Homo sapiens: one gene and its partners. The protein of the gene in region 1 purifies or fractionates together with the protein of each later gene. This does not show direct contact. Each region holds a gene or a part of one and is shown in the gene's direction. Other genes may lie near its edges.

Region 1 (4,034 bases):
TCCATTCAAAGATGTCTGCTAGGCCGGTTGTGGTGGCTCACACCTGTAATCCTAGCCCTTTTGGAGGCCAAGGTAGGTGGATCATCTGAGGTCAGGAGTTCGAGACCAGCCTGGCCAACATGGTGAAACCCTGTCTCTACTAAAAATTCAAAAATAGCCGGGCATAGTGGCACGTACTTGTAATCCTAGCTACTCGGGAGGCTGAGGCACGAGAATCGCTTGAACCTGGGAGGCGGAAGTTGTAGCCAGCCGAGATCGTGCCACTGCCCTCCAGCCTGGGCGACAGAGCAAGACTCCGTCTCAAAAAAATAAAAAATGTCTGCTAACCCATTCTGACTGGCCACCTGACCCTCAGTTCATACCTTAAACCCCTCTAGTTCCTCTAGTCATATACCACACTTTGGCCATAAGGTATCATGCAACTAAAGAGACACAATGCTTAGTTGTCCAATCAAGAGAAATCAGCTCAAACGAATCCTTTTTCAAAGTTTGGCAGTTTTGAAGAGGCCTTTTCCTGAAAGGTATCTGATTCCTGATTGCGTGGCTCAAAATAGTTCTTCAATTCTCATCTTGTATAATTAGTCAAGAAACCAATTACTGCCGAGTAATCTTTATGATGCGAAGATTATAACGTAAATTACAGGACATCGACTTCTTGCGATGGGGCTTTCCTTCCACGAGGGGTAGGAACTGTCTTGAAATCAGACGTCAGCATCACCTGGTTCAAGGGATAAGGGACTGGCTCTCCAGCGACTTGGCAACTTACAAGCGCTCTTTAAACACGCCTTAAACTACTTATTTAATCCTCCACACTCAGGGAGGCGCAATTTATTCTCGAGTTGCGAGTGAGGAAATTCTGGCTCGTGGCTTCGATTCCTTCATCCGTACAATGGGGGCGACTTGAGACGGAGTTCCCACACAACGGGTGCTCGCCGAAGCGCCGCATCCCTCCGCACTCCCTTCCGGGACTTCCTCTCCCTGTCTTGCCCCGCCCCGGCATCGGTAACGCTCGCCTGTGATTGGATGCCGGCCGGCCGTGAGGCGGTGGAAGGGGTTGCGGTGGCCATGGTGACAGGAGGCGGGGCGCCGCGCCCCTCCGGCAGTCACCGAGGCCCGGACCTGCGGCGTCGGCGGCGCGCGCAGAGGGCCAGGCGGGCGTAGAGGCCGGACCGACGCGTGGCGGCAGAGGGTATCCAAGGCCGGACCTGGCGCGCAGGCGCTGACCCGACCTGGCAGTGAGCTGGCCGCGGCCTTGGCTGAGAGGCCTTAACCCCGCCGGGCGGCCGCGCCCTGCATGCGAGTTGGGCCGCGGGCGGGGTTGGAGCCTACTCGGGGCGACTGCGATGGACGCCTTAGAAGGAGAGAGCTTTGCGCTGTCTTTGTGAGTAGCTCCTCCAGGGCGCAGGCGACTTGGGGCCGGAGGCAGCGGGCGTTCGCCCCGGGGCCTGACCCTATAAAACAGGTGTCCTTAGGGGCCGGGCCGGGCCGGGCCGGGCAGGGTGGGGGCCGCCAAGGCGCCGTCCCAGCTCCAGGCCTTCCTTTTGTAGAGTACTAAGGCTGCAGGTTTCAGGCCCCGCAGGACAGGAGTGCGAGGCGGGTGTCACCGTTGATCAGCGCCTCCATCACAATCCCCAGCCGCCAACCCTCAGCTGTCAGCAAAGCCTGGAGGGGTTGAGCGCCCGAGGCCCCTCCACCCCTCCCTGGCCCCCGCCTCCCGGACTCCTGACCAAATGACCCCCCCCGGCAGGTGTTTCGCCCGTGCCGGGTTCATGCTCACAAGCAGACAGGTATGGGGTGATAGCTAAGAGCCTGGAGAACAAGTTTTTATTAAAGTGGAGTCATGACATTGAACGTTCATGTCACAAACGTGCCGAGTGTGTTTTCTTCTGTTTGGACTTACTAGATCAGTCAGTCATTCTTAATCGTTGAAGATGGGTGATGGGAAGTTCGTTTTGCTACTCTTTTTTCTCTTGTGCATGTTTGAAAACGTCCATACTAAAAACATTTTTTTAATGCATTATTTGAAATAGCACCTAATCCAGGCATGTTTTTCAGCTCCTCCGCCTCTGATGCAGAATTTGATGCTGTGGTTGGATATTTAGAGGACATTATCATGGGTAAGCTTTTAAGATACTGTTTTTAAGGACTTGCTTGTTTCTTTAAGGACATTGAAATCAATTTGGAGAGTTAATTTTAAAAAGAGAAAACATCAAGCTGCCTGCAATTTTTAATGTAGCACAATGTAATACTTAAGTAAAGGCTTACTGCAGTTTGTCTTAGAAACAAACAGCCCAGTACTCCTGAAAACATCTAATAAGCATAGATTCAGAGGCTGGAAGGGACTGACTCAGGCTAATAGGGCACCAGCAGTGTGGCGTTCTTCGCAAAACTATAGGAAATAATGATCTACTCTATTTCTTATGTAGGGTAAGAGCAATTTCAATTTTAGATAGTTTTGAGTTTTAACATTTTCATGCCATAAAACACATAAAACCAGGCCAGGTGCGGTGGCTAACGCCTGTAATCCCAGCACTTTGGGAGGCCGAGGTGGGCGGATCACGAGGTCAGGAGATCAAGACCATCCTGGCTAACACGGTGAAACCCTGTCTCTACTAAAAATACAAAAAAAATTAGCCGGGCGTGGTAGCGGGCGCCTGTAGTCCCAGCTACTCAGGAGGCTGAGGCAGGAAAATGGCGTGAACCTGGGAGGTGGAGCTTGCAGTGATCCGAGATCGTGCCACTTCACTCCAGCCTGGGCGACAGAGCGAGACTCCGTCTGGAAAAAATAAAAATGAAAATAAACACATAAAACCATAACCATAAGCACACATGGCCATAAAGAAAACAAGGTATTAAGCTTCAGCTGGTTCTGTATTTTCCTAGGTTTTGAGTTCCTACTTGTGGATGTATTTGGGCATCCATGAAACCTGCTAAGTAACAGAGAAGCAGTAACAGTCCCCAGAGGTTTAAGACAAGTATGTAGGAGGGGAAAACTTACATTTGAGAAAATTCTGTTGACTTTAAGTTTTATGAGAATTGAGAAAAGAACACTGTTATTTGGTGTTATTGGCTGTATGGCTTAATCCATTTAGAATGAAAATTACTGACCAAGTTTTTATACCTTCAGGTATAAAGGTTCATGCCCTTAACTCCTGAATATAGATGTTTCATCATTAAGCTCGTTTCCCATGTGGACTTGGGGATTTCTGGGGAATACTGAAGAATCCATTCAGTTCTCTTGCCTATTATACCCTATATGCTATGGGAAAATGAGCCTTCTGTGAGCCTACGGTATTTATCCCAAAGTCTGGGTCCTTTCTGAAACTTTCCTTTTATTTTTAGAAATAATCTATTCAGTTGTTAAAATTCCTTATTCCGGGATGGGTACGGTGGCTCACACCTATAACCCCAACACTTTGGGAGGCCAGCGCAGGTGGATTGCTTGAGTCTAGGAGTTCGAGACCAGCCTAGGCACCATAGGGAGAACCCTGTCTCAATTAAAAAAAAAAAATTCCCTATTCCCTATCATTTATTAAGTGTTCACTATGAACTAATCTATTTACATGAATTCTCATCTAAATTCCACTTCCAATCCTATATGATAACTACCATAAACCATTCTTATTTTCCAGATAAATGTGTTTATATGGGGGTTAGAGAAATTAAGTAACTTACCCAAGGTCACACAATTAGTAAGTAGCTGAGATGCGATTCGAACCCAGACGGGCTAGCCTCTTTCAGACCCCATAATTTTAATCACTACACTGTTTCCACAACTGCTGTGGAAGTTATATCAAAATAAGAGAGAACCAATTCATTCCTTTTCAGAAAAGTAATGTCAGGGAGTTCCCAAGCCACCCTGTGTGGATATGGTTAAAATGGACTGAAGGATGGTGGTGATCATTGCACAACAATGTAAACATACTTAAAGCCACTGAGCTGTGTGCTTAAACATTAAAATGATAAAAAAAAATTGTATATCTCACCACAATTTAAAAAGAAAACAGGGCTGGGTGCGGTGGCTCACACCTGTA
Region 2 (4,241 bases), on another chromosome or scaffold:
ATTTGAACGATCTTTTCCACCCACAGATTAGATCTTCTACGGTCTTGGGTTGTCACCGTGATTGCACTTCCAAGATGTGTACGTTATGTCATGCTACATTTTACGTGTTAAGAGCACAGTGCACAGTGACCTCTCCCATGACTGAGAGAAGTAAAATTCACATGTAAGTAGTAGTGGCCACAAAAACTTGGAAAGACAGGTCTTTTCCAACAGATATTCAGGTCTCAGAGACAATCTGAAGAGTTTGACGGACTCTTTCCTTGACCAAAGTTTAATCAGGCTTAAGTCCTCTTCTTCAGCAGGCCTCCACCCTGGTCCCCTGACCACTCACCCCGAACCTTTGGCCTGCCCAGCTCTATTTTAGCAAGAACCCTGCTAAGTTAGGTTAGAGAGAAATCACCACCCTTGATATCTGATCACCCTGGATATCTGATCAAATTTCTCATTCCCCCACCCTTGATATCTGATCGCCCTAGCCTGCCTTCAGCAAGAATCCTGTTAAGTGGGTTCAGCAAGAATCCCTCTAGGTGCTTGATGTCTCGTATCAGTAACTTTCCATCTACTGACCCCTTCGTTCTGCTCCTTGGCTATACATCCCCAGCTGTCCTTACTGTATTCCGTGTTAGACCTCATCTCTCCCCCCAGTGTGATCATCTTTACACCTATAGCAATAACCCTGTATAAAGTCTTCCTTACTGTTTTAACAAGTGTCAGAATAATTTTTTCTTCAACAAGTTCTCAACAAAAACCCATACCCAGAATCTTTTTCTGGAATGAAAAGGGCTTCAGGGCTTCTCAGGTCACTTTTGTTGTATTGCCCACAGAGCTGAGAGTAAACAACTCCTTTGGACGTTTTGGAGAAGAAAGGTCCTTCTATACACCCACTTCATCCAAGGAATTACATGCTTGGGATATTAAGCAACAGCTACAAAAATCAGGAAGTTCCTTCTCCATGTATATGACGAAGTTCTGGACAGGAGCCCGCTGCCAGAATACGAATACTCTTCCCCAAAGACCCCTCCTCATGCCCCTACACGCTCTTGCCGGTCTAGCCTTTCATTGCCTGAAGCACGGCGAGAACGCCTGGAGAGCTCGTCCAAGCAAGTGCAACCCGCTGGTGACTGCAAATGAGCACATGGAACTGTGCGCCCACGCTACGCTCGGTTAAAATCAATCTGGGCTCTTCCTGCCTCGTCCACGCCGAGGTCACACGCAGCACTGGAAGCGGCCTGCATCGGGCGGGGCGGGGAAGGCCGAGGGCACGGCTACCCAGGCCCGCCAGGGACTGCCCGGACCGGCCGGAAGCCGCGCCTAGAGGAGGGCCCCGGAGCTCGCGCGGGCGCCGTCCCCCGGCGCCGCCGAGGCCTGCTGACATCAGCCGCGCTCCTCCCCTCGCCTCCCAACACCCTCAGCTCCGGGCCGGACCCTCCCTCCTCCCACCACGTGTCCTCCCCGCTCCCTCCCGAGGGGCCGCGCGCACGGGAGGACGGAGAGGCGGAAAGGATGGCGCTGTGACAGCCGGGCCGGAGCCCTCGCGTCCCCACCCCGCGCCCTGGCCGCTGGGCCCGGCGGTGAGTGCGCGCGGGCGGGGGCGGCGGCGGCGCGGCCCCTCCCCCGGGTCCCGGGCGGCTGGGCCGCGGCAGAGGCGGGGGCGCCGAGGCTGCGCCGCCGCCGCCGCCGCCTTTGTTGCGGGCCCGCCGGGGAGGCGGGCGGCGCCGGCTCTCGCCGCCCGGCAGGTGCGCTGGGGCCGGGAGGGGGCCAGGTGGGGAGGCGGGCCGGGCGGAGGGGGCAGCGGAAGCGCTCCCGGCGCGGTTCCGCGGAGAAAGGGAAATGGGGCAAGATGGCTGGAGAAATCCGAACGCGCCCGGGGGCGCGGCGGCGGTGGCGCAGGCGGGGCAGGGCGGGCGGCGGCCCTGGTTGCGGCACCTTAGCGCGGGGAGGCGGCCCCTCCCACCTCTGCCCCGGAGCCGGCAGGGAGACCGCCGCCAAGTTCGGGCCCCAGCTGCAGGCATCTGAAGCCTAGACCCATCCATGCCGCGTTCGCCTATCTTTTTTGGAAATATCGAAGGAACCGACTTTGAACTCCAGAGGGATCTTTTCTTTGGAGGTTCCCCGATGCAGCCCTCAAGATGCATCCGCACTCCACACCTAGGAATTGCCCGCGCCCATAGAGGGCAGGAGTGCGGCCCTTTGTACTGGCCAAGAGTCAGCGAATAGAGAATTTGCAGCCCAGAGGCAATGGGTTATTTCCCTGTCGGGGTGGGCCCCAGCCGATTTCTGCACCTTTTTGGGTATCCAGGCATAACCCTCACTATGTTTCACTGACTCCTGCGTTTGCAAAGTCCCTTAAGGTAGAATGACCCTATTTTCTGAACCAGCTCGTGGACAGAACCTTTGAATTTGGAAAATCCAGGCAATGGGCCTACTGAGCCAACCGCTCCGCCCATGCTTAACTGGCTTCTAGCACCCATTCCAGTTGAGTAAGTGTCCAATCTGTGTTCAGACACCTTCACTGATAGGAAATCAGCACCTTTCCCCTGCCTCTGATTCCTGTTTGGGTGGCACTGGCTGTGAGAAAGTACTGCCTTTCTCACTGCTTAAAACCTTTTCCAGGAGTATTTATCCACTGGCCGGCCTCTGTTCTGCCGTCCAGTCTCTACAAACCAGTCTGGGTTCTCTTCCCCAGATAGCTTTTTAAATATTTGAAGGCAGCCAGATACGTTATCTACCCACAGCCTCTCTTATCATAATTAAACATGTCACCCTGTAGCTTCCTGGCCGACTCTTGTTTCCTTACTTCCCTCCAGCGGGAACAGTGCTTGGGGCTAAAGAGGTTTGTATGTGGCTCAGCCTCCCCCATCATAGGCTTTGGGGAGGTCACAGTGACACCTGGTTTTTCTGAACCTGAATCTTGCTTGCAGAGATGGAGTCCACAGCCTACCCTCTCAATTTGAGCCTGAAAGAAGAGGAAGAGGAAGAAGAGATTCAGAGCCGGGAACTAGAGGACGGCCCGGCAGACATGCAGAAAGTACGAATCTGCTCTGAGGGCGGATGGGTAAGTAAGAAGGTGTGGAGTCCACACAGCCAGCAGATGCAGGCCTGAGAGCCCAGCTTGCTTTAAGTCTCCTCCTCAGACAGACGTGGGAAGTAAAAATAGCCCAGCCCGGTGTGTTTGCATTCCTGAGAAAACAGCTCTGTGGCTTTAAAAGGCAGTGCAAAGAATGGAGGAGGTGTTATGGAAACAGTCCCTCAGCCATGTAGCTTGTCATCGTTCAATTGGAAGTCCTAGAAGCCAGGACCTTGTCTCTCTCGTTCACCCACTTATCCTGCACTGCGTTTGATGCCAGGCACATTGTAGGCACCAAGTAAATGTTTGTTGACTTACTGCTGGTTGAAGGGAACCATTTTAAATAAGACTCGAGTCATTGGGTTGACATGAGAGGTTAGGCTAGTTGGTTCTGTGTGAGCACCTCTTACCACAGTTGACACAGGAGAGCTGCCTGTCCAGCTGACCTGGATAGAAATGGTGGGCAGCAGGGAATACAGAGATTCAGGGTATACACGCAGAATAGTATGATAGAGGTCGGTTTATACAAATGCAAATGCAGTAGATACTTATAGTTACAGATAGTTATTCACCGTAGTTACTGGACTTCGTGGTAATTAGGCATGAATAGTAAACATTTTAAATAAGCAACAAATTGACATTCCTTTTCTCTGCTTATTTTCCGTTGTGTATAAACATTGTCAGTATACATAGTATCCTTTGCTTCCATGAAGAGCCCCTATCCATACAAGCATGGTACTTCTAAATTGTTCCCTACCAGAGGAGAGAACTGGGATGCAGAAAGATTATCTGCCTTGCCCTAAGGTTACACATGAACACTGACATTTGTTCTTCAAAACAGGTCTCCTGAGCTGCACCCTTAAAAGTAATGCATTTTACCATATGTATGCTATACCTTAATTTAAAAAAAAAAAAAACAGTGCAACCACAGGCTCTCAGTTTGCCAGTCTAGCTGTGGACACCGCGCTGCCTTTGTCTCATCAGTGTTCTTTGCCCACCACATCCTTCTTCCCAATTCTGATCCAAGCAGGCGTCAGGTCTATTTAGCCTGGAACAAGAACTCAAGGCAGTCAAAACTCAGGGCTTTGAGGCTAGATTGGTCAACCCAGAACATCTAAATGGAGAGCCTTGGAGAACAGGTGCAATGAAAGTGAATGTTGGGACAGTGAGGAAG
Region 3 (3,500 bases), on another chromosome or scaffold:
TATTGTTTGTTCTAATTTTTGGATAAGGAAAGTTGAAGGCCCAAGAAGTTGAGACTAGTCCAACCTCATAAGTAGCAGAGAAAGGATTTTTTTTTTTTTTGAGATGGAGTCTTGCTCTGTTGCCCAGGCTGCAGTGCAGTGGCACAAACTCGGCTCACTGCAAGCTCTTCCTCCCGGGTTCACGCCATTCTCCTGCCTCAGCCTTCTGAGTAGCTGGGACTACAGGCACTCGCCACCACGCCCGGCTAATTTTTTTTGTATTTTTAGTAGAGACGGGGTTTCACCGTGTTAGCCAGGATGGTCTCGATCTCCTGACCTCATGAGCCACCTGCCTCCCAAAGTGCTAGGATTACAGGCATGAGCCACCGCGCCCGGCCCAGGATTTTTTTTTTTTTCCATCAGAGTCATAGAGTGCAGTGGCACAATCTCAGTTCAATGCAACCTGCACCTCCCGAGCTCAAGCAATTCTCATGCCTCAGCCTCCCGAGTAACTGGGGTTACAGGCACACGCCACCACACCCAGCTAATTTTTGTATTTTTAGGAAAGATGGGGTTTTGCCACGTTGGCCAGGCTGGTCTCAAACTCCTGACCTGAGGTGATCCGCTCGCCTCAGCCTCCCAAAGTGCTGGGATTACAGGCGTGAGCCACCATGCCTGGCTCAGAGAAAGGATTTTTGAACCAGGATCTCCTTACAAAGACCTTGATCTTTCCTCTATACCAGGGATTGGCAAACTACGGTCCTCAGACCAAATCTGGCCTACTGCCTGTTTGTATAAAGTCTTATTAGACCACAGCTGCTATGGTTTGAATGTTTGTGTCCTTGAAAAATGCATATGTTGAAATCCTAACCCCCAAGATGATGGTATTAGGAGATAGGACCTTTGGGAATCAAAGCCCTCATGACTGGGATTAGTGTCCTTATAAAAGACACCCCAGAGATACCATGTGACAACATAGTGAGAAGGCACCATCTGTGAACCAGAAAGTGGGCCCTCACCAGACACCAAATCTGCTGGCACCTTAATCCCAGCTTTCAGAACTATGAGATAAATCATATAGTATCACTCATGCCACATTCTGTTGGTTACAAGCCCGTCCAGATTCAAGGGGAACGAACATAGATTCCCAATTCTCAATGGGAGGAGTGTCAGATTTTGCAACCATTTTTTGAAAACTGCCACAGACTTCTCACTAGTATCAGAAATTCAACATATGATCTTCATAAAACATTTCATCAGCATTTTTTCTTCTCTGTTCAGTAGTACCATCATTATTTCACTCTTCTGGGCTTGAAAACTTAATCATCCTTGCTTTTTTTCATCCAAATCCATTTGTACTACAATTTCTTTTTATTTTTTTTTAAATCTTTTGGATGTCACTGTTTTTCTCACTGCCATCACCAGACCCCTGAACCATTGTAGTAACACCCCAAAATGCACTCTCTGCTCACTGGTCTCTCCCAACCCAGAGTGTACTGTGCCATGCAGAATAATGTGTATGTGCTGCTTAATCTGTAGATTTCATCAAATTATCAAGGGGCCCATTACTTAAAAAAAGTTTGACAACCATGCGTTGGGAGTCCCCAAGACTGCCCCCATATTTAGAGATTCATTAGAAGGGCTAAGCATATAAGGCATAGTGTGTCTAAGGTTTATTAGTAAAAGGACGCAGAATAGAATCAGCAAAGGAAAAAGACACTAGTAGAAATCTGGAAAAAGTCATGCACAGGTTTCCTTATGTTTTCCTTCCTGTGGGAGGATACTGCAAGCATGTTACTTTCTCCAGCAACGAAAAATGTAGTAATGTATATGTACAGTGTTTTTGTTTTTTTTTGTGGGGTTTTTTTGTTTTGTTTTGTTTTGTTTTTTTTGAGAGAAGGTCCTGCTCCGTGGTCCAGGTTGGAGTGCAGTGGCTCAGTCACAGCTCACTAGCAGCCTCAACTTCCCAGGCTCAAGTGGTCCTCCTACCTCTGCCTTCTAAGTAGCTGGAACTACAGGTGCATGCCACCACACCAGAATAATTTTTTTTTTTTTTGGTAGAAACTGGAGTTTGCCATGTTGCCCAGGTTAGTATGTACAACGTTTATGCCCAGAGAAACCCATTAGAGACTCAGGGTCCGAGGTTTTTATTGGAGGCTGATCATGTAGGCACTCTACCAGATACCTAGCAGGTACCAAAATTTCAGACTCCCAGAAGGAAAACAGGTGTTGGCATAAACTTTATTGTTTACACAGACTAGGCGGAATAAACCACCCTTATGAGTTGGGGAAAAGTGGGAATACTCTCAAAATCTAGTTCTGAGTTGTTGAGGGCCAACCTTGTATATAGGTTTTCCTAAAAATAGCATCCTCCAGTGCTTTGAGAGACCGAGGCAGGAAAATCACTTGAGCCTAAGAGTTCGAGACCAGGCCAGGCACAGGGGCTCATGCCTGTAATCACAGCACTTTGGGAGGCTGAGGCGGGTGGATCACAAGGTCAGGAGTTCAACACCAGCCTGGCCAGAATGGTGAAACCCCGTCTTTAGTAAAAATACAAAAATTAGCTGGCGTGGTGGTGGAAGCCTGTAGTCCCGGCTACTCGGGAGGCTGAGGTAGGAGAATCGCTTAAACCCAGGAGGCAGAGGTTGCAATGAGCCAAGATCGTGCCACTGCACTCCAGCTTGGGCAACAGAGCGAGACTCCGTCTCAAAAAAAAATAAAAATAAAAAAATTCGAGACCTGCCTGAGGAACATAGTAAAACCTCATCTCTACAAAATTAGCTGGACATGATGGTGTGCACCTGTAGTCCCAGCTACTTGGGAGGCTGAAGCAGGAGGATCACCTGAGCCCAGGAATTCAACGTTGCAGTGAGCTATGATTGTGCCACTGCACTCCAGCCTGGGCAACAGAGCGAAACTGTCTCTAAAAAACAAAAAAGTTTAAAGAAACTAAACCTCTTTGCATCCCTCTACCTTATTCAAGCAGAATGTCTTACATTCTAGTAAATATGATTGCTAAAGAACTCAAGTTACCTACATCATGATAAGTCATTAAATTGTTTTTGGCTGGTTGTGGTGGCTCACACCCACAATCCCAACACTTTGGGAGGCTAAGGTGGGCAAATCACTTGAGCCCAGGAGTTCAAGACCAGCCTGGGCAACATAGCGAAACCCCATCTCTATAAACAATACAAAAATTAGCTGGGTATGGGGGGGCGTGTGTCTATAGTCCCAGCTACTTGGGAGGCTGAGGTGGGAGGATGGCTTGAGCCAGGAGGTAGAGGTGGCATTGAGCCAAAATAGCGCCACTGCACTCCAGCCTGGATGACAGAGCCAGACCTTATCTCAAAAAAAATAAAAAAATTGTTTTCAAGTAGATTCCCTGTTTAAAAATAATCTTGAATTCTTTATATTTCAATACTCCTAAATAATGTAATAAATACATATGTTAAATTAGGTTAGAATTTCATTATGATCTCCTCACTAGATCTTCTCTCCGTGGCAGGATGCAGACTCATCTG
Region 4 (3,500 bases), on another chromosome or scaffold:
ATGTAATGTAATATAATTGGGTTGTTTGACTTATTGAGTTATAAGAAGTTTTTTTTTTTAGAAATATATTCTGGATGTAAGTTTTTTAGTAGATACATGATCTGCCAATATTTCTTTACAGTCTGTTGCTGGTCTTTTCATTGCTTAAAAAATTGGTGGCTGGGCGTGGTGGCTCACACCTGTAATCCCAGCACTTTGGGACACTGAGGCTGGTGGATCATGAGGTCAGGCATTCGAGACCAGCCTGGCCAACATGGTGAAACCCCATCTCTACTAAAAATACAAAAATTAGCCGGGTGTGGTGGTGTGCACCTGTAGCCCCAGCTACTTAGGAGGCTGAGACAGAGAATCGCTTGAACCCGGGAGGCAGAGATTGCAGTGAGCCGAGATCGCACCACTGCACTCCAGCCTGGGCAACAGAGCGAGACTCTGTCTCAAAAAAAAAAAAAAAAAAAAAAAGGCGATTAAGATCTTTTAAAGTGTAATTAGTTTAAATTTTGATGAAGTGTGGTTTCTAAATTTTTTCTTTTATAGATTATACTTTTGTTGTCTTATGTAAGAACTCTGCCTAATCCAAGATCTTGAGATTTTTCTGCTTTCTAGAAGTTTTATAGTTTTAACTCTAACAGTTAGATTTTATCATCTATTTTGAATTAATTTCTGTGTATGGTGAGAAATAAGGTTCTAAATTCATCTTTTACATACAGATGGTTCTGTCAACCTAAGTAAAAGACAGTCCCTCTGAAAGAAAGCAGTATTTATTCAGGAATGGGCATTATAATGGGAATATGCATACCGTAGTAAACTATGTGCATATTCAGGGAGGTAAAGGAAGACATAGCTTTTTTTTTTTTTTTTTTTAAGACAAGAGTCTCGCTCTGTCGCGCAGGCTGGAGTGCAGTGGCGAGATCTCAGTTTATGGCAAGCTCCGCCTCCCGGGTTCACGCCATTCTCCTGCCTCAGCCTCCCGAGTAGCTGGGACTATAGGCGCCCGCCACCATGCCCAGCTAATTTTTTGTATTTTTAGTAGAGACAGGGTTTCACCGTGTTAGCCAGGATGGTCTCGATCTCCTGACCTCGTGATCCTCCCACCTGGGCCTCCCAAAGTGCTGGGATTACAGGCATGAGCCACCGCGCCCGGCCAAGACAGATTTTTAAAGGAAAAATGAGGAAGATTACATCATTGTTTTAAATCAATTATGTTTGGCTATAAAGATCAGTGACAAGAGTGATGCCAGTCTGAGGTTGGACATGAAGTTACTGGGCAGATGTCCTTGCAGAAGTATTTTTTTGTGTAAGGTTGCAGTTGCCTTTGTGCAGGGTTGTGGCCTTTATGAGTTTTTTTGTGATAGTTTTTTTTTTTTTTTTTTTTAAATGTAGTCCCGCTCTGTAGCCCAGGTTGGAGTGCAGTGGTGCGATCTCGGCTTGCCGCAACCTCTGCCTCCCGGGTTCAAGTGATTCTCCTGCCTCAACTTTCCACGTACCTGGGACTACAGGCCTGCGCCACCATGCCTGGCTAATTTTTGTATTTTTAGTAGGAATGGGGTTTCACCATTTTGGCCAGGTTGGTCTTAAACTCCTGACCTCAAGTGATCTGCCTGCCCTGGCCTCCCAAAGTGCTGGGATTACAAGCGTGATCTGCCTGTCTCGGCCTCCCAAAGTGCTGGGATTACTGGCGTGAGCCACCATGCCCGGGCAATAGTTATTTTTTTTTAATCAGGTATTCATGCATGAGAACCCTCCTTTCATGGCCTTCCCTGGCTCCATTTGTCAGGGCTTTTAACACAAATGACTCAATTTTAATTCTAACAACTTTCACTTTTCCCCCTTTTGATCAAAATCTTTCTTTGGACCCAGGCACAGTGGCTCATGCCTGTAATCCTGGCGCTTTGGGAGGCAGAGGCAGGAGGATTGCTTGAGCCCAGGAGTTTGAGACCCACCTGGGCAACATGGTGAGACCCTGTCTCTAAAAAAACAAATAAAACAAAAGGGATCTTTCTTTGGAAGCATCACTGATCAATCATCTTGTAGTTAGGTTTTAATTATCTTTAGGTGCCAGGATGGACCTGTCCTGGGTTGTTGGTATGGTCCCATGTTGGAGGGAGTGCTTGTCAAACTAGGAGTCAGTGTCAGGACCCTTTCAGTCACATTTGAGCACACAAGGGAAGTTTGGAGGGAGTGATTCTCAGGCTAAGTCTGCCGGGAATCCATTATTAAGATCAGTTTTTGTCTGTTCCTTAAATGTAGGCTATCATCTCAGGGTTTAGGGCCAGCCCAGTATAATTCTGTTGGGTCAGTATAATTCTGTACTACTACAGAAATGTAACAAATAACATGTACAAAGTTTAAAAAGGAAAATACAAAGTAAAATTAATAGTAATATAATACCAGTTTACATAATGGTTTTGAGCCATGAAGCTAGACCTAAAGGCAGTCAGTTGAAGAAACCAAGTGACCATGGAGAACTAGATGAGACCTGTTGTAACCATGTGATCTGTTTTCTTATTTTGCGTATGAGTCTCAACTTCCTCAAAGGAATTTATCCAGGTAAATCATGTAGTATTAGTAATAGCACAGACATTTCTTTACTTAACCAATAGCTAATGCAGAGCATTGTTATCATTCGGCATTCCATAACTGGGTTGAATTAAAGCAGAGTGTGAATAATTTTTTTAGGGATGTTGCCAGAGTCACCCACTAGGTGGACTGAAGGATCTCTTAGGTCAAGTTCTGTCAAGTTACCAGCAGAAGCTACTGATTGTGAAATTTCAGTTACAACATTATCTTGCCAAGTGAAAAAGCTACGCCTTAAGAGGGGTAAGAGTCTCCCCTTGTTCAATTATCTTGGGAAAACCTGTCTACAGTGCGGAACCATCGACTTCTCATCCTGGTTTGCAGTTTGAATGTCTCTGGTTAAGGCATTGGGCAGTTTGGTGAACTTTTCTGTGTGGCTCAGACTTCGAGTACCAGACTTGTCCCTTAAAATTCATCGAGTTTCAGCTTATAGGGCTTCAGGAACAGAGCAATTTCTGTTTTAATAATTCTGTGGAAGAAAGTTGGATTGGAGGAACCTAGAAGAATTTAGGATCTAGGCCAGTTTGCAGGTAGATAATAAAAACTCAAATACAGTGTACAGGGCTACAGTCTAATAATAGATACAGTAGTTTTTCTTTAGAAGCATAACTTTTTATAGTCATCCCAGTTTCTACCAATCAGAATAAGACAAATTTGTTTATAAAATAGTTTTATTAGTTTTTTGTCTGATTATTTACATAAATGCAGCAAGAATAGCTGTTGACCACAAAGAAATCTCAGATTTATAAACCCTTCAAGACTAGGAAGCCAAACCAAGGGAGACATTAGATTTCACCTACAGCCTTAAGGTTCCTGGGCTGGCCAAGAAGTGACAGATTATATTCTCTCACTGTAGGAATGGGAACACCTGAACCCAGACATTGTGTGCACATTCTTAAATAAGATATTCCAGTCAAAGTCTTGGT

What was found. The genes of interacting proteins can lie anywhere in the genome.
Region 2: the proteins of ARL2BP (region 1) and POGK purify together in Homo sapiens (affinity purification with mass spectrometry; one large-scale study listed by BioGRID and IntAct). This does not show direct contact.
Region 3: the proteins of ARL2BP (region 1) and HMCES purify together in Homo sapiens (affinity purification with mass spectrometry; one large-scale study listed by BioGRID and IntAct). This does not show direct contact.
Region 4: the proteins of ARL2BP (region 1) and ELF2 purify together in Homo sapiens (affinity purification with mass spectrometry; one large-scale study listed by BioGRID and IntAct). This does not show direct contact.

The regions. Positions count from the first base shown.
Region 1 is NC_000016.10:57,244,025-57,248,058, forward strand, and holds the start of ARL2BP (ADP-ribosylation factor-like protein 2-binding protein), read left to right. Parts: upstream 1-1,234; 5' UTR 1,235-1,343; coding exon 1,344-1,381; intron 1,382-1,768; exon of another isoform or gene 1,769-1,787; intron 1,788-1,790; exon of another isoform or gene 1,791-2,055; coding exon 2,056-2,117; exon of another isoform or gene 2,118-4,034. UniProt on the Homo sapiens protein: Together with ARL2, plays a role in the nuclear translocation, retention and transcriptional activity of STAT3. May play a role as an effector of ARL2.
Region 2 is NC_000001.11:166,838,034-166,842,274, forward strand, and holds the start of POGK (pogo transposable element with KRAB domain), read left to right. Parts: upstream 1-1,441; 5' UTR 1,442-1,571; exon of another isoform or gene 1,572-1,736; intron 1,737-1,821; exon of another isoform or gene 1,822-2,480; intron 2,481-2,921; 5' UTR 2,922-2,923; coding exon 2,924-3,055; intron 3,056-4,241.
Region 3 is NC_000003.12:129,285,370-129,288,869, forward strand, and holds part of HMCES (abasic site processing protein HMCES), read left to right. Parts: intron 1-3,484; coding exon 3,485-3,500.
Region 4 is NC_000004.12:139,167,219-139,170,718, reverse strand, and holds part of ELF2 (ETS-related transcription factor Elf-2), read left to right. Parts: intron 1-1,862; exon of another isoform or gene 1,863-1,952; intron 1,953-2,676; exon of another isoform or gene 2,677-2,817; intron 2,818-3,500. UniProt on the Homo sapiens protein: Isoform 1 transcriptionally activates the LYN and BLK promoters and acts synergistically with RUNX1 to transactivate the BLK promoter. Isoform 2 may function in repression of RUNX1-mediated transactivation.